Linked DNA regions of Homo sapiens. The protein of the gene in region 1 purifies or fractionates together with the protein of each later gene. This does not show direct contact. Each region holds a gene or a part of one and is shown on either strand. Other genes may lie near its edges.

Region 1 (7,398 bases):
CTGGGTTCTTCTAGTTCTTCCACATACTGGGACTTATACTTACGTTTTCACTGTGCAAAGGGGCCGGTATGTTGCATGAGAACTGAAATTCCAGAACAGTAGTACTACAGAGTATTGCAGGGAAAAACAAAAAATGTATTTTAATTCTCTTGGGAAGGGAAGTTGTTCTAGACGTGGTGCAGATATGAGTACAAGAGAAGGAACTCTTTGACTTGCTTTTTAACTTTTATCATAGTGTGTGGGTCCTCATTCTCTTCTCCAATTCCACAATTCCAGTGTTCATATGACTCATTCCAGACCTCATATGACACAGAAGTTAAACCAAAAGGCCCTCGCTTCTCATTTGAGTTATGCAAATAACCACAACAGTTAGAAGTTGATTGGTTCTTTTGGGAGAAAGTTCCTCTGTGTGAATCCAGGGCCGGTGCTGTCTGAACTCCTGTGCTGCAAATGGTGTCGTGTCCTGGTATCACTGACCTCCCTTGGACATCACCCCCTAAGTTCTTAACATCTATTCCTGAAGAAAAAGCTTAAAATGAAAACTGCCTCATAAAATGGCTCACTTAAATTCTTACAGGCACATGAGATTTCCCAATCTCATCTTTGCAAGCAGAGCTCATCAGTACCACTCTCTCACTATAAAGAACCACCTCAAACCTGAGAACTAGTACAGGTTCATGAGTTACCCCTGACTGGGAGAGTTAAATTAAGCATTCCTTAGCTTTTTCTACTTTTTCTTTTCTAAAACTTTATACAATCACTTTCTGATGCAACTCAAAGCAATGCAGATAACAATGGTTAGGATCAAGACCACCAGGCAAAAACAATCTAAACTCTAATTTGTGAGCAAAAAGTAGAATCAGAGCTAGAAAGGCTATATATAGTCATCGCAAATAGGATGACTTTCCCACGCAAGAGGTTCAAAAGTATTCCATTTGTCATTTTGCATGCAGCCAATTCAATAAATAGAAACCAGAATCTTATCAGATGGGAGAGGAAGTGAGTAATACCAGAGTTTTGATTTTTTTTTTTAAGTTTCTTAATGGAGGCTTTACACAATGGAAACAGGACTACAAAGACACTTTACGGTTTACATATATGAACTTTCCCACATTCACGAACCTGAAATGTGTCCACCACTCGGTGAAGAAACTCAATGACAAACAGAGGGGGGACCTCCGTCTGGATCACGGCCACAAAAAAGATCTTGTGGCGGTAAACACTTAAGAGATAGTGGTGAGGGGTAGGGATAACCGGAGGCACATTTTCTGCCTCAGTAGCTCTCTCTTGCGCCTCAAAAAAGTAATCACAAACAGAACGGCTGACCACACTTTTCCAATGTTTCTCCAGGAAAATGTCTCCAGAGGAGTTGATCAAGAAAAGACTATGGATCATGGTGGCGATTGTCAGTGACAGAAGAAAGCCTTTTTCAGTCTGAAAGCCTCAGGACTCTGTAAGTTTTCAACTCTAAAAACAAAAGCAGCGATATTCAGTTCCATTCAACCAAAAGGCCCTCCCCATCTTTTCCCAACAGTCCAAGACTTACCCATCTTTCAAGACCAGGCCCAATCTTCCCCTCCTGCATGAGCCTGAAGATAGCCCTCCCTTGAATTCGAAACGATAATGATCAGTCATCTGACTGTCAATCATATACTCCCAGTTATCTTTACTATCGCCCAAATTGCATCCATTTAAAATACTACTTATCTGTGGGTGTCTATTTTCTCAACCGAACCGCAAACTCCTTGAAGAAAAGGGCCGTGCCTCATGTTTTGCGTTGCCTGACTGCAACACAATCAGTGTTCTTTGAAGAGGGCTTCCAAGAACACTGAATTTGATGTCATGTTTTGGCAACAGCTCACACATACACAAGAAATGCGCAGCTTAATACGATAGCCACTATGGGACCAGCGAGCACTTGAAAGGTGGCTGGTGCGGACTGAGGTGTGCTGTTAAGTGTAAGACACACGACAAATCTGAAAGGCTTTGCATGAAAAAAAAAATTTCAAATATCTTACCAATAATTTAATATTGATTATATGTTGTAATAACATTTTGGATATCCTGGGTTAAATCAAATATATTAAAATTAATTTAACCTGTTTTATTATTTTAAAGTGGTTACCAGAACATGTACAATTACATATGTGGTTTGCTTTCTATTTCTGCCCACCAGAATTGGTGGGAGGAATGGAAAGCTGCCCTTGGGGGTCTTTATTCATCCAATCAGAGCTATTCTCTGAGCACTCCTTAGGCACTTGTTAATGCAGTAAGACATTTAAAAAGATCCCTTGGGGCTCCCGCCTGTGATCCCAGTACTTAGGGAGGCCTCCGCGGGCAGACCGCTGGAGCTCACGAGTTCGAGATCAGCCCGGGCAACAGAGGGAGAACCCCGCCCCCTCCACCTCCAAAAAAAAAAAAAAATTTCCCTGGGGGACAGACACCCCAAGGCCCTCAGACGGTTGCATCTCTCTGGTGCCAGTCGCCAGGATGTGGCCATTCCGCGAACCGGCGCGGGTGGTCAAAACGCAGAGGCCTGCGGTGCCCAGCGCCGCCTGGAGGAGACAGCAGGAGGGAGAGACAGCCAGGCAGCCCGGGGTGCGAGGGAGAGGCAGCGGCCTAGGCAGGCGGTCCCTGCGCAGGCCCCGGCCCAGAGCCGGCGGCGACGGAGGCCGCGGGGCGCAGGCGGGCAGGGGCCTGGCTGAAGGGGCACGCGCGTTCCGGGGTGAAGAGCGCAGGGGTGCCGGGCCGCGCCAGCGAGCGCACGTGCGCTGCCATGGCAACAGTGTCCCCTCCGCCCGCAGCCGCGGCGCCGGGAAGGACGCCCTCCCCGAACTCTGAACCCGGCCCCTCACCTCTCCCCGCCGCGTCCGCAGCCCTGAGAGGCCGCCCGGCTGCATCCTGAGACCCCGCCCCGACCCTCGCGCGCCCCCACTCCTGCCCCCTCTCCAGGCTCGGGGTCGTCCCTACTCCTCACCTGGCCTTGCTGCTCTCAGCGCCCACTGCTCCTAGGCGCGGACAGGCCCCGCCCCGCCCGCCGCGCGCGCTGAGGCAGCCGCTCGCCCGCTGATTGGCCGGCCCGCGGCCTGGCTACCGCTCCGCCCACGATCTGCGCCTGAAGGCCGCTGATTGGGTATCTGGGAGCCGCTCCTCCCCTCTGATTGATCGCTGTTGGCGGCTTGCCCTGTTGTCGGGCTCGAGTCCCCCGATTGGCCCTGTTGAGGCCACGGTCATCTCCGATTGGTACAGCTCCGAGACCCCGAGTCCTGATTGGAGGTCGAAGACAGTGCGTGCTGCTCGGCCCCACTCATCCAGTCACAAAGGGCTGGGGCGGTCGCCGCGCTCGCGTGTTTGCGGAGTGCGCCTGGAGGGGGCGCTGGAGTATGTGTGTGCCGGGGCGGGGTGGCTTCCGGGCACGAGTTGCTGACAGCGCCTCGCGGTTGATAAATCCTGAGGGCGGCGGCTACCCTGCACTCCATCGGTGCCTTTGGGAAGCGCCGCCTTCTCTGTTGTACCCGGCCGTGGGTCAGGTCGGCGCGGCTGGCGGTGGAGTCTCGGACACCGAGCCCTGGACCCCGACTCTGGAAGCCCCCAGCCCCACTGGGCCGCGGCAGGGCGCCCACCCTCCACAATCTCAGTTCCCAGCCGGGGAGTGAGGGGCTGGGCGGGTCTCTCCACCGCTTTGGAGACCTCAGGACTTGGATACGCTTTTGAGTGGTCCCAGTCGTCCTGATCCACGAAGGCGTGGAGTGGAAGTCAGGACCAGGGGTCGCCCCAGTGACGCAGGAAGTCAAGCCCAGATGCGGTGAGGCGTCGCCAGCCTTGGACCCAGCAGTGGGCGCTGGTGACAGTGGCGACCTCGCCGATGAGAGGTTCGCCCTCCCTAGCATTAGTTGTCACTTTGGTGAAATGGAGCGTGGGTGGCAGCTCCTCCACACACAAGCCCTTTGCTGAGGTGGTGCGGGGGGTTCTCTCCACGCTTGCTAAGGGCAGGTAGTTGGCTGACTTTGAACTATGAAGAAAAGCCAGAAACAAAATGGCAGAATGGTATGACTCTGGGTGGGCTTAGGGACGCTGGTGCCAGAGGACTTGGCTTGAACCCGCTCCAACACTTACAACCTGAGTGACCGTGAGAAAGAACTGTAACTCCTCTAAACTTCAAGTTCCTCACTTCTCAAATAAGAACGTGAATAGTACCTCCCTCCTAGAGTTGTGAGGATTGAGTTAGAAAATGCTAGCAATTGTTATGCCCTAAGGAACAGCACAAGATACAATAACACGTGATAATGTGTGTCGAAGGTGCAGAAATGCAGTCGCTGCCGTGAGAATTTCTCATTCATTCACTGAATTAACATTTGCCGAAAACCCCCACGTATCGACCTGTGCTGGATGCTGGAGATGCTGCAATGACTGCTGTCACAGGCATTGTCCCTGTGGTTACAGGGCCCAGCAGGAAAGACAAATGAGAAGCAAGGGATTGCAATGCAGTGTGATGAATAAGGAACGCATAGGGGGTGGGAGGAGTGCTGTAGAGATGGCTGACCTAGAGTCAGGGAAGACCCTCTACCTTGAAACCTGAAAATGAGAAAGGATCCCTCAAATGCAGGGATAGATGGACAGAGAAAAAAGTACATAAGGAAGGCTCTGCAGATGAGCAAGTTAAGTATAGCTGAGCTGGAATGGTAGGAAGAGCGCAGGGAGATCAGGCTGGAAAGGTAAGTAGGGAGCCTAGTGGTTGTGAACCTTGGAAATGTTAATATTTATAAAACACTGTGTGCCATACACTGTGTTTTATAATTTGTAAGTACCATTCCATAAATATTTAGTGAGCCCTACCATGCGCCAGGCACTGTTCCAGTGCTTGGATACATAACACCAGTAAACAAAAGACAAAAATCTCTTGGAGCTGGGCGCGGTGGCTTACGCCTGTAATCCCAACACTTTGGGAGGCTGAGGTGGGCGGATCACTTGACGTCAGGAGTTCAAGACCAGCCTGGCCAACATGATGAACCCCTGTCTCTACTAAAATTAAAAAATTAGCCAGGCGTGATGGCACGTACCTGTGGTCCCAGCTACTCAGGAGGCTGAGACGGGAGAATCGCTTGAACCCAGGAGGCAGAGGTTGCAGTGAGCTAAGATCGCACGACTGCACTCCAACCTGGGCGACAGAGTGAGACTCTGTCTCAAAAAAAAAAAAAAAAAAAAAAAAAAACCCTGTCCTAGTGAGGCTTATATTCTAGTGGGGAAAAGACAGATAATAATCAATATACATAAGTAAAGTATATAGTAGGTTATAAGATGGCATGTGCAATAAAAAAAAACTACCAGGAGTGTTATGGGATTGGAGGGCAAATTACAGTTTTTAAGAGAGTAGTGAGAACAAGCCTCATTGAGAAGAGACATTAGTGCAAAGATTTGAAGAAGGCAGAAGAGTTAACTATAGGGAGATCTTGGGGGAGAGCATTCCAGCAAAGGGAACAGGCACTGCAAAGCCTGTAAGGCCAGAATGCTCCTGGGGAGTTTCTGGAGCAGGAAGGGTGACAGTGTGGCTGGAGTGAAATGAGCGCAGGGTAAAGGAGGAGACAAGGTTACAGGGTGGGTGGCCTGATCACACAGGGGCTAGAAAGCTCTTTTAAAGATTATGGTTGTGAAAGAGAGAGCCCATGGAGGGTTTGGACAAAGGGGTGATAGGATCTGATTTATCAGTCATCTGGGTTGAGAAGACTGTGCAAGAAGACTAGTGAGACCGCTGCAGTGACCCAGGCGAGAGGTGATGGAGCTCAGACCAGGCTGTAGCCATGGAGGTGGTGAGGAGGAGGTGGACTGTGCGTGTAGTCTCCAGGAGGAGCCAGCTGGATTTCCAGATGGATGGGATGCAGGGAGTGAGAACAAGAGAGAAGGGAGGGCCACTGAGCTTCAGCATGGAGAAGGATAGTTTCATCAGCTGAGACTAGAAAGACTATGGGTAGGCCAAGCACGGTGGCTCATGCCTGTAATTCCAGCACTTTGGGAGGCTGAGGCAGGTGGATCACCTGAGGTCAGGAGTTCGAGACCAGCCTGGCCAACATGGTGAAACCCTGTCTCTACTAAAAATACAAAAATTAGCCGGGTGTGGTGGCGAACACCTGTAATCCCAGCTACTCGGAAGGCTGAGACAAAAGAATTGCTTGAACCTGGGAGGTGGAAGTTGCAGTGAGCCAAGATTGTGCCACTGCACTCCAGCCTGGGCAATAAGGCAAGACTCCGTCTCAAAAAAAAAAAAAAAGCAATCACAAATCTGATAATGTTTTAAGAGAGTTTATGAGTTTGTGTTGGGCTGCATTCAGAGCTATCCTGGGCCGCATGCAGCCTATGGGCCTTGGGCTGGACAAGCTTGCTATAAAGGAATACCTGAGACTCGGTAATTTATAATATTAAAAAAAAAGAGGTTTATTTGGCTCATGGTTCTGTAGGCTATGCAAGCGTGGCACCAGCATCTGCTCAGCTTCTGGTGAGGCCTCAGGAAGCTTTTACTCATGGCAGAAGGTGAAAGGGGAGCGGGCAGTTGCATGGTGAAAGCAGGAGTGAGAGAGAGGAGGTGCCAGGCTCCTTTAAACAACCAGCTCTCTCATAAACCAACAGAGTGAGAACTCACTCATTACCATGGGGAGGGCACCAAGCCATTCACGAGGGATCCAACCCCATGACACCTGCTAGACCCACCTCCAAAACTGGGGATCACATTTCAACATGAGATTTGGAGGGGACAAACATCCAAAGTATATCAATATATCTGTGAGCTCCATTAACTATCCAAGTGGAGATGTTGAGAAGGCAGCTGGACATATAAGTCCAGGGTTCAGGAGAGTGGGCTGAGCTTGAGATATAAATTTGGGTGTTTTCAGTATATGGATATTTAAAGTAGTAGGACCTGTTGAGATGACCGAGGGAAGGAGTGTGGAGAGATAAGAGAACCAGATTCCAGGGACACTCCAAATTTAAGAGTTCACATAAGAGAGGAGGATCTGAAATCATTTAATCCCCCCAACTACTCTAAAATGAATTACCGTTGTGATCCCCTTTTCGTAGATGAGGAAGCTGCAAAGACAGCTTAAATAACTGCCCAAGGTCGAACAGCAAAGCTGTGATTCAAGGACGTTGGAAGATCTGAGCAGAATGGCTCAGATTCCACACTTCCTACCTCTAAGCCCAGGAACCCATTGAAGAAATGTGAAGCAGGAGAGTGGCACACTTTCAGATTTCCATTTCAGAAAGACTATGTGTGCAGGATGGACTGTAACAGGCTGAGCCTGGAGGCTGGGAGGTTATTTAGACAATTGCAGTAATCCCTAGGAGAGAGCTAGTGCCTGGAGCCATGAGGCAGGGATTAGAGAGAAGTGGACACCTTCCAGAGAAGAT
Region 2 (7,026 bases), on another chromosome or scaffold:
CAGGCAAAGAAGATCCAATGTGCATAAAATAGGAATCCCTGAAAAAGAAAAAAAATAACAGAATTAATATTTAAAATTATAATCTTAAAAAAAAACACTTTGCCAGAGATAATAAAAATTCTGAATCTACATTTTGAAAGGACTCACTGAGTACCAAGGCAAAACAATTGACCCATATCAAGTAATCCTGAAGTACCTTGCAAAAGTACTATATTTCAAAGATAAAATCTTCAGGGCCAGCATCTTTCTTAATGCAAACACAATGTAAGCATTTCCTTTAGACTGAAACAAGGCAAGAATGCCCACCATCTCCACTACTATTGAACACAACTGTAGTGATGGCACTAAACAATATAATTAGGCAAGAGAAATTAGAGTTCTAGGAACTGAAAAAGAGGAAGTAAAACATCTCTATTTGCAGATATGATTCATTCTCTAAAAAAAAAAAGAGAGAGAGATTTAGGCTGCTTGCTTCTGCCTCAGAGTTGGTGCTGTCATGGCCAGTCAGTCTCAGGGGATCCAGTAGCTGCTGCAGGTTGCTGAAAAGGGTGTCTGAGACCTGCAGTGAAAGAACCGGAGGGAGAAGCAGGCCAAAGCAGCAGTTCAAGGTGAAATTGAACAATATTGCCTGCAGAGGGAGAAAGAGTTCAAGGCCAAGGAGGCTGCTGCCCTGCGATCCCAAGGCAGCTGCAGCATTAAAGTAGAGGAGACCCAGGAGAAGAGAACCATCTGGAAGCAGTTTAGGCAGAAGAGGGGTGAAGTCTTGGCCTTTTTCTGCAATATCTGGTAGTCCATTCCTGCTAGTGGTTAGAACAATGAACACTAGTATAATTGTTTGGGCCAGTTTTAGTTACTTAATCAAAGAGGACAGAATTCAAGAACTTGTTACATGTTACTACTTGGTGTACTGATAATCATTTAAAAGTAAAGACTCTTTGTCATGCAAAAAAAAACCCAAGGAGGATGAATGAGAAAATTAACTCAAACAATAGAAGAATTCAGTAAAAAAGCAGAATATAAAATTTATCACTCAAAAAAAATCAATAGCTTTCTTACATACCAACACAACGAGTTCAAAGATATAAATAGTTGAAGCAATTTTGATTTACCATACATTAAAAAAAAGATTAAAGACAAAAACAACTCTAAACTAATATTTAACTCTAATTAAATATTTAACTCTAATTATTAGGCCCCATGCTACTGTATACCCCACAGAGGTACAGTGCTAGCAATTCTGAAGCAATAGTTTCTCTGCATTCTGAGACTCAGCAAAAATGTAAACAGATTGTGGAAATAGGAGCCCTGTTTCTTGTTTTTTTGTTTGTTTGTTTGTTTCTTTTTTTTTTTTTGTAGAGACAAGGTTTCACCATGTTGCCCAGGATGGTCTCGAACTCCTGGACTCAAGCAATCCATCCACCTTGGCCTCCCAAAGTGCTAGGATTACAGGCATGAACAATGGTGCGTGGCCAGAGCCACATTTCTTAATGTTGAATAGGCAGTTTCAAATATAAAAAGGAAGGAGGCTGGAAGGAACTCTGTGCTATACCACCAGAATTACAGGTGTCAGTAAAAACTTTGTTTTTTACTATAGACAGAAAAAGAAATATGTATTCTTAATTAAAAAAAATAAACATATAGTATATAACACTTTAGGAAAAATGAGTGCCTCACAAAGGGTAGGCCACCAAAGCCCCCAAAGAATCTACCTATGAACACTGAGCATGAAACCACTGCAGGGGGGTGAGGGAGACATTAAAAACGATACTACACACTTAATTACTATCACCAAGAATGTAACAAATTAATTCAACAGTCATTCAACAAATATTAAATACCTGTGATGAACAAGTATTCAATATTTTTTACTTTCTGGTGTATTTTGGAAACAGACATTCCAATTTTACACAGATATTGTATCTTTACATCTTTTTGAGTACTTATTTCTTATTTGGAATTTTTAATCACATCCCATGTGGTGTTAGGCACTGTGCTGAGGGTTTTATATACAATAGTTCTTTCTCTCGACACAAACAGCAAATTTATAAATTAGATATTATAAACCCTACAAATCTGGAGCCTAAAACTCATAAAGAATTGGTACATATACTATGTGGCAGACGCTCAGACATTAAGCCAGTTCTATCTGATTCAAACGCTATTGTTTTTACCTATGATATGCTGTATCCTGTCTGGGAAGACATGCACATATTATACAGAGAGAGTTCATTCCCAGGCCATCCAAAGAATTTCTCTTAGTCTATAATGTAGCAGAAATGATGGTAAAACTCATTAAAATGACAGATCTGCTTCTTGTAGATCTTACTACTCTCCATGGTACTTAGCCAATCTCTTGCACTTATAATAGAAAAGCACTAAGTATTTTTTTAAATTATTAAAATCAAGTTAACCATAATATTAATAATATTGACTTCATATCTGGCAGATAGCATGCCTGTCATACAGAAGACAAAAAGGAATCAAATTTCTTTTCTCTATCTTCATTTATAATCAATCTATATTTAGTTACCTCCTACGTTATACCAACTATGCATAGAAGAAATGCAATAATGATTTCTGGTACACTACAGACTAACAGAAATTTACTAAATGGTCTAGGAATGAAACTACAAGTATAATCTCCATGTATAAGACAATATTTTCAAAAATATATAGTAAAAAAACCATGAAAAGAATTAAAATGTTCACTAGAACATATTCACTTAATCTAAGAAAAAGCAATAAAGGAGAAATAAGGAACAAAAAAGGCATGAAACATATAAAAGCAAGTAAAATGACAGCTTAAAATCCAACTATATTAATAACAACAATAAGTGTGAATGGATTAAACATTCCAATTAAAGGCACACATTGGCAAACTGGATAAAAAGACAAGAGCCAACTATATGCTGTCTATGGAGACATACAATAGATGCAAAAATATAAACAGGCTGAAAGTAAAAGGATGGAAAAAGATATATAATGGAAACAGCAACCATAAAAAAGCTAGAATAGTAGTATTTATAACAGGCAAAACAGACATTAAAACAAAAAAATGTTACTAGAGATAAAGAGGAACATTTTACAATGACAAAAGGAAGATTAAAAAAATTATAAACATACATGCACCAAACATCCAATCTCCTAAATAGATGAAGCAAACACTAACAGAATTAAAGAGACTTCAATACCCTGTTTTCAATAATGAATAGAACAAGTAGGCATAAGATCAGCAAAGTAGAAGATTTGAACAACACTAAAAAACAGATATCTATAGAACACTCCACTCAACAACAGCAGAATACACATTCTAATCAAATGTTTATTGAACATTATCCAGGATAGATCAAATGCTAAGCCATAAACCAATAGTTACAGCTACACAGGGCTACTGCCTACTGTATTAGATAGCTGCCATGCATAGATAGTACATACTCCCTGATGATAGCATCCTAAGATGAGCTGGAATCCTTTTCCTCAGTAGTTTTGAGAAATATAAAGTGGGTACAAAAGCCCCATCTAAGATACTAGTACACTAGTAACTCACATCCCCCATAGGTCACCTCTATTCCTTGATCTTACCATGTTAACCACTTAGCCACAGGTTAAAGATTTTTTTCTCAACTTGCCTTTTTTCAGATTCTGATGAAGAAACACATAACGATCTAAAACTCCAAATGCAGTCTTTCTCATTACATGAAAATTTTTGTTCTTTAAAAATAGTCCTGTGTGCCATTAATATTTATACCATTTTGAAATCAATAAATACAACTATATAAAATATATAATGGTAAATGATACTATGTAAATAAAGTACATTTTTATGTCAAAGACGTAAAAAGACATTACTTACTGTGCTTTTATCTTTCAGAAGTTTTTCAATTACTTCAATTAACATTTCCTTCTGCTCTGGATCAAGGCTAAAAAATACAAAAATAACATATTAATTTTTCCCTTTAATTCTAGCTTTACATGATGCTCACCAATTCAAGGATGTTGAGAAATTTTTAAAGAGGGAAAGGAGAGCAAGAATTATAAGTTAGAAATAAAGAAAAACAAATAAAATGGGATGGTTTTTCTCATGAATGTGTCCTCATCTTTCCCTCTAATATTGTTCATATTAACTAAACCAGATATCAATGGTTTAGTTAAGATAGTACTGAAAGAACAAGTTCACTTCTAAAAGAGTTGGAAAACTTCAAGAAAGCGACTGTAAGTAGATAAACCACAAACTCTTTTCAACTGGGAGGAAAAAAATAACTAGATAGCAGTCATTATTTTACTATGCATACATACTTCCCAAAAACAAATATGGAGAATTTCCAAATAAGAATTTTATATCATACTAGTTCACTGATAGAGACATGCATTATAAAATCTGCCAACTAAAACTAGGAAAAATAAGAGGTAGTAATAAGCTTAAAACATTTGAGATAGAATACTAACAGACTATAAGCTCAAGGCAAGGAGAGGCAAGCATTGAGGCTGGAATATACTGGTGCCCAATGATAGAAGGACTTTTAAGCCGTTAGAGTGAGCATGGATCTTATCCCATAAGTTTCTAAGGAGAAAAGGTGAGTGAGAAGCATGATAAAACCTTGTCTGGCAGTTAACATAGGAATATGAGGTTTCACTTTCTACAAACATACACATTTATTACTAAACATTATAATTATCTGGACAAACTTTTTAATTCTTTCAAATTTCAGCTTAAGTCTTCCTTCTCAAAGCAGTATTTCACTACCAATCCCATCTCATTACATCTTTACTTTCCGGTAACAAAATATGATCATCTCTGGTCCCTGTCCTATCAAAGACATTGCTAGTGTACCTTTGTATATACATATATATCAAGTGCTAATATCTTATTCATTATAGATTGCCTTTAATTATTTGGTATGTCTTTGATCTTCTTCCTCAAATACATGATATGCTATTCATAATTAAGTGCCACATCCTCTACTGTTTTCATACATCTAAATACACATAGCACAATACTGTGAATACAACACCAGAAACAGAAGAGAGTCTCAAAAAGCTTGAGGAATAAATGATAGCTGAAAATAATACCAAATTGTTGTAGACAATTCTATTTGGACAGTAAATTTTCCACAGAGATCAGGGCATTGTATAATATTGCATAACATTTCTAAAATATCACACAGATATGGTATAGCACACTATATTTCAAATCACTACACTTTTTAAAATTACTTAATAAAATAGCTCTGGAAAAGAATTAGACAACGAAGGGAGCAGCAGGAACAAAGATGGAAGAAAGGAAAACACATATAAGTGAGTTGAGAGGATCAGACACTTAAGATTCTACCCTAAACAGGAAAAAAAAATCTCAATTTTCTAATAATACAAGCATATGTGTACATGAGATAGACTATATAAATGAGAATTCAAATTCTGATTATTCTTAAGTTATAAAATCTATAAATTATCACAGGCTCTAACAGCCTCACAAATAAAAACCTGCATAGGGTCTCTATAGCCAAAACGAAATTAAAGATGTGTAAGGAACATTTGCAGCAGGGGGAAATACCATCATACAGTCACTGGATTTACTTAGTGTAAGAGCAGCCTACCTAAAAGAGCGAATAAAACAAGCCTCTGTGGTCTATAACATTCCATGTAACATCAGAGATCTTTGGTATATTGTTAACAATGCACCTACCTGTATAATTTTTGTATTGCATGGGCTGCATTCTTCCTAACATATGGTGATAAGTCAGCAGAAGCTTCCTTAATAGCAAGCATCATGATAGGTACAATAATTGGCACTCTAATACTTGACAGAACTCTCAAAGCGCTTGCACGAATTAGTTGGTTTGGGTCCTAAAAATAGTGCAAAAATATTCACCAAAATTTCAACTTTACAATATTTTAAACATATCTTTCAGACACAGTTAATAGGTGCTTAAAGGGTGTAATATGACAATAGCAAAAGAAAGCTACTTAATTTAAAATGAACAATTAGTATATAGGAATGGGAAAAAAAGACAGACATAAATGTTTACTTCTTTAATAATGTTTTAAAGAAAAGTAATAGTTATAATTCTAGTTGGTCATTTATTACTAAATATGCTGGGTTTTTATACTTTCATAATAATAAAATGCTGCAGGTCATCAATTTCATGTTTAAAAATGTCTTATAACCCCTTTTGCGTACTTTCAACAACTAGTATAATGATAAACAGCTCTTTGAAGCATGAAAATAATTATATTGAATATAAACAAACATACAGAAGCTGTAACATATACAGCAAGGTTTCAGTTGGTTGTATAAATTATTTTCTAAGTGTACTGAGTAGGCACTATAGGAGGCTTTTAACTCTTTCAAGACACTACTGTGCTATTTAGTGGATTATCGCTCCACTTCTTTAACTGACACACTTTCAACTCTGCAGAAACCTTGTAGCTATTTGCCTACTCACTCCATTATTTACCTTCAGAGCTCGCTGAAAAGTGCTTATGGACAGGAGTGCAAGATCCTGCTGTTCTTCAGCATATCGAACCAGGTAAACATATACCAACTTCTTGATCTGTTAAAAAAAAATCATTTATTCATAACCAGAGTGAAAATTTAAAACTCAGTATTTGCTATACCAAAATCCATGCTCAATTCTTCTCAAGTAAATAACTGAATCTGGTCACATGTTAGATTGTAAAATAAAAATAATATTTTGTGGGATAATAAGTACAACAGGAAAAGCTTTTAAAGTAAGCATTTTAATAGTCCAGTTCACAATAGCAATAGCCTATCAAAGTGTCCCTTCCTCTTGAAGGGAATAAAAAATCCCTGAGCAGATCTCATATAAGAATATTAACTAAATTGTAAAAATATTTTCAAAATGAGGGATAAAAATAAAAGAAAGAAGCCAGGCATGGCGTACATGCTTGTAGTCCCAGCTACACAGGAGGCTGAGGCAGGAGGATCACTTGAGCCCAGGAGTTAGAGGCTATCCTGGGCAACACAGAGAGACCCTACCTCTTTAAAAAATAATAAGAGAAAGAATT
Region 3 (7,026 bases), on another chromosome or scaffold:
CTCCATAGGACTCAATAAATTACTTTTATTTTGAAATTTTCAATCAGAGACCTTATAAACATTTCTTTTGCTTACATGGTTTCACACAAAATAGTTGCTCATCACCACGTACATGGAACTTTTAAAAAAGTAATTCACACAGTTAATTTATGGTGTGAAAAAACGTACAGGAAATATCAGAAGAAAAATTAGTTTTGTAAAACTAGAGGTCTATTAAAAATATTTCCAATATTTGCCAATACGCTTTGCAAAAATATTCAGGGTTTTTAATTCAATACTAAAACATTAATATATTTTTATTGATTCTGATTATGACATGTTTGGATGTCAGAAGGTTTGCTACAATGAAAACCCATTGTATTTTGGTGATTTGGTAATTTGGTAATTCCATTTTTCGAGCATTCTAGTTTGAAATACAGTCAAGTTTTATAAGATTTCTGATCTTATTTTCTGTTGGCCACTGTTAATATGCACCTGCAGGTCAAAACTGTAAAAGCAATTCTGTTAAGACTTTGGAACTGAAAACCATTTGAGGGGAAAAAGTACTATTTAACAGTCACTATTCTAAGCCTTCACTGCTTCCCATTTTGTATGCAAAACTCTGAAGGTTCAGCTTTTGGTTTTTAAATTCACAGCTTCCAAAACCCAGCAGGCAATTTTATGTTAGAATCCTAATTTAGAGATGGAAAAAAAACAAATCTGTGAGAGTTAAATTAAGATTGGTTCTGCTATATGATGCTCAAAATAAATTTTACGTTTTTATATACAAAGTAAATTGTCACTTCTGCAAATGCAATTTGTCAGTTAGATGACAAGTGTTTAAAAAAAATTTAAACTTTCCTTTTACAATGCAGGCAGACAAAACAGAACAAACATGACATCAATGATATACTAGTAAAATACACTAAGTCCAATAAAAGATGAAGAAACTACAAGGAGAAACTAGAATGGAAAATAGGCTACAGGGACTATATGGGTTTATTAACACAAAGAATTTTTGAGTCTGGCCTAAATAATTAATTGCCTTTGACATCATTTTGCTTTCCCTTTGTTATAGTACATATTTCTCAAAGTCAGCAATACCTTGTCTACCTGTCCTGTCTGGGAGACTGAAAGATAAAGGTCTGTAAGAGAGAAGAATGGAAAGAGCTAGAAAGATCAGGATGTTCGGAAAAAAAAGAGGACTGACTTTCAAAAAGTAGTGACTAAATTCAGACCCATTTATCCATCTTAAGAATAACATGAAATACATAAAAGCTAACAGATCTCCCCAACCCCACCCCTCTACCTCCACCCCCAGGGAGTCCTTTTATTCTTAGGCAGGTTCCTGAGTGCCTCTTATACTTCCCCCGAATCCCATCAACCTCCCAGCTTAAACCCTCCTCTCCCAATATTCCAATGTTATAGTAAACCATTTTTCTATCAAAATAGAATAGATGGAAATACATTCAGAGTATATCTTTGCTTCTCTCTTTCAGGATCTGGCAGAGCTTTGCTTCCACCTGTCTAGGTATTGGGAATTAAACTGGTTCACTTTTTTCCATTACCAGAAATGTACTAACTTTAGACCAACATAATAAAAGCTCTGATTTCTGACAAAGGCCCCTAGATAAATGCATGTTATGTTTAAAAAGCTGTGTCTCAATTATACCCAGACTGATTTTTAAATATAAATGATGTTCCTAAGATATTACTTAAATAATTTTTAAAAATATTGATAACCAGTTCTTTTCATCAATCATGACATTCTCGATTTTAAACAAGTCTTTTTTTGTGTGTTTGTTTTTGAGACGGAGTCTTACTCTGTCACGCAGGCTGGAGTGCAGTGGTGCAATATCAGCTCACTGCAACCTCCGCCTCCCGGAATCGGGCGATTCTTGCGCGTCAGGCTCCAGAGCAACTAGGATTACAGGCAAGTGCCACCATGCCTGGATAATTTTTTTGTATTTTTAGTAGAGACGGGATTTCACCATATTTGCCAGGCTGGTCTCAAACTCCTGACCTCAGGTGAGCAGATCACCTGAGTGATCCCAAAGTGCTGGGATTACAGGCGTGAGCCACTGCGCCCAGCCAAACAAGTCATTAAGTTTGTCCTTATATAATACATTTTAACTGAAATTTAGTAAGAAGATTAGGAAAAGTTTATACTTTGTTTCAAGTAATTTTGGATTATTCTGCAGAGTAATATCTCTGGTAAATTTAACCAATTGAAGTAACATGGACATGAAACATATGAAAGCTTTTGACATTCTAGCTGGAATAAAGCTAGAAGCCTTTCAAACATACTTAAAATATACAAAAGCTACGAAAAATTAGTCATCATAATTTTCAGTGCTGTTTTAAAAAGATGATCAGGGCTAAATGGCCTCACTTTGACTTGAAATCCGATTTCATAACTAAAATATTAGCAGACGTTACATGTATAGAAAATATATAATTTTGTAGTTTATCCCCAATCAGACTTAAAACATACTTTCTTGTAAAAGACAAAAGAAGAGAAACTAATTTGGTACCAGATAACAATTATGTATGATGCGAGATGATCAGGGAATGAATAATAGAAGTAATCACCAGTATTCTAAACTATTTTAAATAGCATTATTTCTGTGAATAGATTTTAAGTTATAGTATTCTTATAACTATTTCCATTGAAATGTAAATTACGCATTTTACTGCTCTTTATAGATAAGAAAAATTGCCTCATTAACGAAGTTTTATTCAACAATCAAAAAGCAAATACCCATTATGCAATAATTATAGGTCCTTCATAACTTTTGTCAATATAGCACATTAACCCATTTATGCCGGAGGTTGCAAACTTTTTTTTGTGAAAAATCAGACCTTGGGGATGACCTTGAGCAGTAGGATATAAATAACTCCCACAAGCTTAGCATTCCAATAATGGAACACCAGGCATAAATGTCTTAAGTAGCAGAAGAAAAAGAAGGACCACCACCAATGAAAAGGAGTTAACTACCTAGAAAGGTGAAAATTCCAGACAACTGGTCAATATTTTTTACAGATGATTATGCAGAATTCACAAATTACTAGATACTCATTCATTTATACCAGTTATTAAAGGATTGCATCACTGTTTGTCCCTTGGCATTTAAAATCTATAACCATACAGTTTTGCAAAGCAATGTTTAACAAATGACACACATTTTAAGTTCTTTTAAGACTTTAAAAGCAATAGCTCAGGGTTTATAATAATCTTTTCTTTACTAAATAATATATTGCAAGTCAGTTATACTAAATTAAATTATGAGTCTTTTTCCTTGTCCTAAAACAAAATTTTCTCTATTAACCTAATTTATGTTTTCCACTTTCAAAAGCCAATATTTTAAAAATTGGCTATAGGACAAACAAAACATATAGTTAGTTAAGATAATCTTAGCTCTAAATCACCACTATAAACTTCTCCTTTGGGAAACCAACAGGAATGGGAAATTGAGATAAAGAAAAATGCAAGACTATTTTAAATTTAAAAGAGAACACTGGAAAATGTTTTATAAGCTTCAACTGTTTCTAGATTTGAGATTTATTCTTCACCCTGTGTTTTCTTCAATTAAAATGGACACAGAATTGAATTGAGTTAAACTGATCCTTTAAAATGCCAACAAGGTAAAATTTTTCAGAACTCACCTGTTGTAAATTAATGCCAGTGTATTTTTAAAACCTTGATGCTTTCAAAGTAATATTTACTTTAAATCAACGAAACATCTGAGCTTAACACTAATAATTATAAAAATAAAGTCTGTTTTTTCCAATCTGAGTTATGACTGCAAATACCAAATGTAAGAGTATCCTCAAACAAGTTGGGTGGTGAATGAGATATCAAAATTATTGATCTTTCTTTTTTTTTTTGAGATGAAGTTTTACTCTGTTGCCCAGGAGTGCAGTGATGTGATCTCGGCTCACTGCAACCTCCACCTCCGGGGTTCAAGTGATTCTTGTGCCTCAGCCTCCCGAGTAGCTGGGATTACAGGTGCGCTCTACGTGCCCAGCTAATTTATTTATTTTTTATTTTTATTTTTTTAGTAGAGATGGGGTTTCACCATGTTGGCCAGGCTAGTCTCGAACTCCTGAACTCAAATGATAAAACTACTGATCTTTCTAAACCTCTGCTAGGGTAATAAACAACCAAAATAATGTGAACCCAGGTGGCTCAGCTACAGCACCTGCTACTGATATTCAGACTAGTGCTTGAGGGAAGAGTCACTACAATTCTGAAGTAGGGTTTTATACAATGCTAAAGTGCTGGCTGTTCCTCATTTATCCCATCTAAGGTTGAATCTAACAGCAGAAAGTTAGCTAAGTATAACAAACCGATCTTATAGAATGCAATAAAGACCATGGATATATATGTACTAATGTCTAAAATATGTGACTTAACTAACTTGTCAGTGAAATCTTAGGGAAAGATTTAGAATTAAAAGATTAAGGTATTGAATTTCTTTTTTGAATGTGAACTCAAACATTCAAAATATTTATTTTGCATTTATTAATAACTTGAAACATTACTTACTTCCCTGTAAGAATTCCATTTCCTGTCCTTTCCCTTTCCAGAAGTAGTTTTGTAACACAAAATTTATATATCTTTAAAATATTAGTTCTAAGATTTCCTTGATAATTACCGACTGAAGTTTTACAAAGCAAATATTAGATTCCATTATTCAGATAATTCTTTTAGGCAATAAGATTTGGAATTGTGCTTATTACCCAAGGCAGCTATGACTGTGGCTAAAAGAAGAATACACAAAGCTGTTGGGTAGAGAACAGTCACAGAACCTTTAGCATACTACGTGTATATTCCATTTTTTAAAAACTGAATAAGCATAACGGCTGAACCTAAAGGGTGATACTGAAGGACAAACAGTGAAAACTACAAATCATGCGTAATCTGTCATCATGCTTAGAACCTTCTTAACTACAGCATTTTCCATTCTTACCTCAGATTTTTCCAGCTTATTTTGTGCATCAATTTGTGTAACAATCTCATTCATATTTGTCTCCAATACCATTCCCCCCATCACCATTTCTGCAAGAATATTGTGAACCTAAAGGGAATAAAAGAATATATACCCATAAAGAAAATTCACTAAAAAGAAGTTTCATGATTCACTTTTTGTTTCAAATACCACTTTGTCTATGTTAAAAGTATGAGTGGTAAAAACAACTTGGAGTAAGGGCTCATAATCCACTTTCATCACTACTGTGAAGCCCTAGGCAGTTATATAACCTCCTTAAGTCTGAGCTTAATGGGCTATAAAACAAAAACAATAGTACTACCTTCATAGGACTGTTGAAAGGAATAAGCAAGGTAATCCAATGCAGTACTCAAAACAAAGTAAATGACTAGTAAATATTAACTACCATTATTATTATTATTATGTGAAGTTTAATACTAAAATATGATTTATAAGAGCCTTTTATGCCAGATTCTTAGCCAACAATAATTAGGTTATTATTTTACACTCATGGTACTTAATGAAGCAATGTAGTACAGTACTTCTAACAGGCTCTAGATTGGAAAAAGGTAGAATTTTTTAAATTGTGGGTACTTTAATAGTGTTTTTACCCCCAAATCCTCTACACATGTAATATTCAGATTTCTTCTAATAAATACATCTTACAATGACTAAAAATGATGTCTTCCATTGGGGAGTAAAAATATAACTTCTGTCTTTTCATAAGGTATTATTGGATCAAAAAATCAACAATTCAGAACTGAATTACATTTCACAGAAGAATCTATTCTGCTATAATTTTTTTAAAATAATGTGGTAAGGTTAGAAATGGAGACTCCAAAATTAGATAAGTATGAATACAGACTCTACCACTTATTACTTGTAGCCCTTGAGCAGTTACTTCAGCTCTCTGAGTCTGTTACCTTATTTACGAAATAGAGACAGAAATAATATAGGCACCTCATAGGATTACCATAACAATTAAATAAATAATTTATGTAAGTGCTTAGCATAGAACCACTAGGTATTATACGGTAATTTTTTTTTCAACAAACTCTTTTTAGGAGTTAAATATGTATTACTCAATTTAAATTTCTTTGTAAGATTTCACGCAAATTTATTCATAATTTAAAAAATATCCCTGGAGGCTGGGTATGGTGGCTCACACCTGTAATCCCAACACTTTGGGAGGACAAGGTGGACAGATCACTGGCAATATGGCAAAACCCTGCCTTTACAAAAAATGCAGACAATTAGCCAGGCATAGTGCCTCACGTCTGTACTTCCAGCTACTCGGGAGGCTGACCCAGGAGGACTGCCTGAGCCCGGGAAGTGGAGGGTGCAGTGAGCTGAAATCACACTACTGCACTCTAGCATGGGCAACAGAGTGAGACCCTGCCTCAATTAAAAAAAAAAAAAAAGTCATCATTATTTACTATTTTTCATTTTGGAAGCATGGACACCTCATGCACAAATTCTGAAGACAAATTTATATAAATTAATCTTCCTAGCCAACCAAACCAAACCAGACATGACAGTGTTTTGAAAACTACCGTAACTTAAAAAAAAAAAAAAAAAAAAAGAATATAGGCAAATGACTAAAAGTTCATACAGAAACTTATGTATGAACAACAATAGTCTCTACCACACTCTGCATCCGTTTTTAGGTCCCTTTATCCAAAGCTACTCAGCTAGCTATATCTTAGGTATCCTAGAAAACTTGCTGTGCACATACTTGTTATACGTGTGTATATGCATATCTAATTTACACAAATGAGAACATATTATATACATTAATTTTCGCAGTTCTGCAAGAAAATAAAGAATTGAAAGTTAGAGGAAGGAAAGAATGAGAAATTAAGTTAGGAAAACCATAAAAGAGACTGGTGCCTGATATACATATGACAGTGATAAATGAAACTGTGTTGGTAAGAGCAAACAAACAAAAATATAAAAATTTAAAACAGTGAATCAACATTAATTATTAGACACATATTTTTATAATGAGATCTCTCACTGATCTCTGTCAGAGAAGCAAGCTGCAAATATGGAAAAC

The links.
Region 2: the proteins of AP3M2 (region 1) and AP3B1 purify together in Homo sapiens (affinity purification with mass spectrometry; 3 studies listed by BioGRID and IntAct, with this or other methods). This does not show direct contact.
Region 3: the proteins of AP3M2 (region 1) and AP3S1 purify together in Homo sapiens (affinity purification with mass spectrometry; 3 studies listed by BioGRID and IntAct, with this or other methods). This does not show direct contact.

What each region holds. Positions count from the first base shown.
Region 1 is NC_000008.11:42,148,685-42,156,082, reverse strand, and holds the start of AP3M2 (AP-3 complex subunit mu-2), read right to left. Parts: upstream 3,021-7,398; 5' UTR 2,978-3,020; intron 1,606-2,977; exon of another isoform or gene 1,547-1,605; intron 1,468-1,546; 5' UTR 1,396-1,467; coding exon 1,123-1,395; intron 30-1,122; exon of another isoform or gene 1-29. UniProt on the Homo sapiens protein: Part of the AP-3 complex, an adaptor-related complex which is not clathrin-associated. The complex is associated with the Golgi region as well as more peripheral structures.
Region 2 is NC_000005.10:78,221,689-78,228,714, forward strand, and holds part of AP3B1 (AP-3 complex subunit beta-1), read right to left. Parts: intron 6,552-7,026; coding exon 6,456-6,551; intron 5,845-6,455; coding exon 5,684-5,844; intron 3,921-5,683; coding exon 3,854-3,920; intron 1-3,853. UniProt on the Homo sapiens protein: Subunit of non-clathrin- and clathrin-associated adaptor protein complex 3 (AP-3) that plays a role in protein sorting in the late-Golgi/trans-Golgi network (TGN) and/or endosomes.
Region 3 is NC_000005.10:115,900,919-115,907,944, reverse strand, and holds part of AP3S1 (AP-3 complex subunit sigma-1), read right to left. Parts: intron 5,061-7,026; coding exon 4,953-5,060; intron 1,125-4,952; coding exon of another isoform or gene 1,089-1,124; exon of another isoform or gene 1,084-1,088; intron 1-1,083. UniProt on the Homo sapiens protein: Part of the AP-3 complex, an adaptor-related complex which is not clathrin-associated. The complex is associated with the Golgi region as well as more peripheral structures.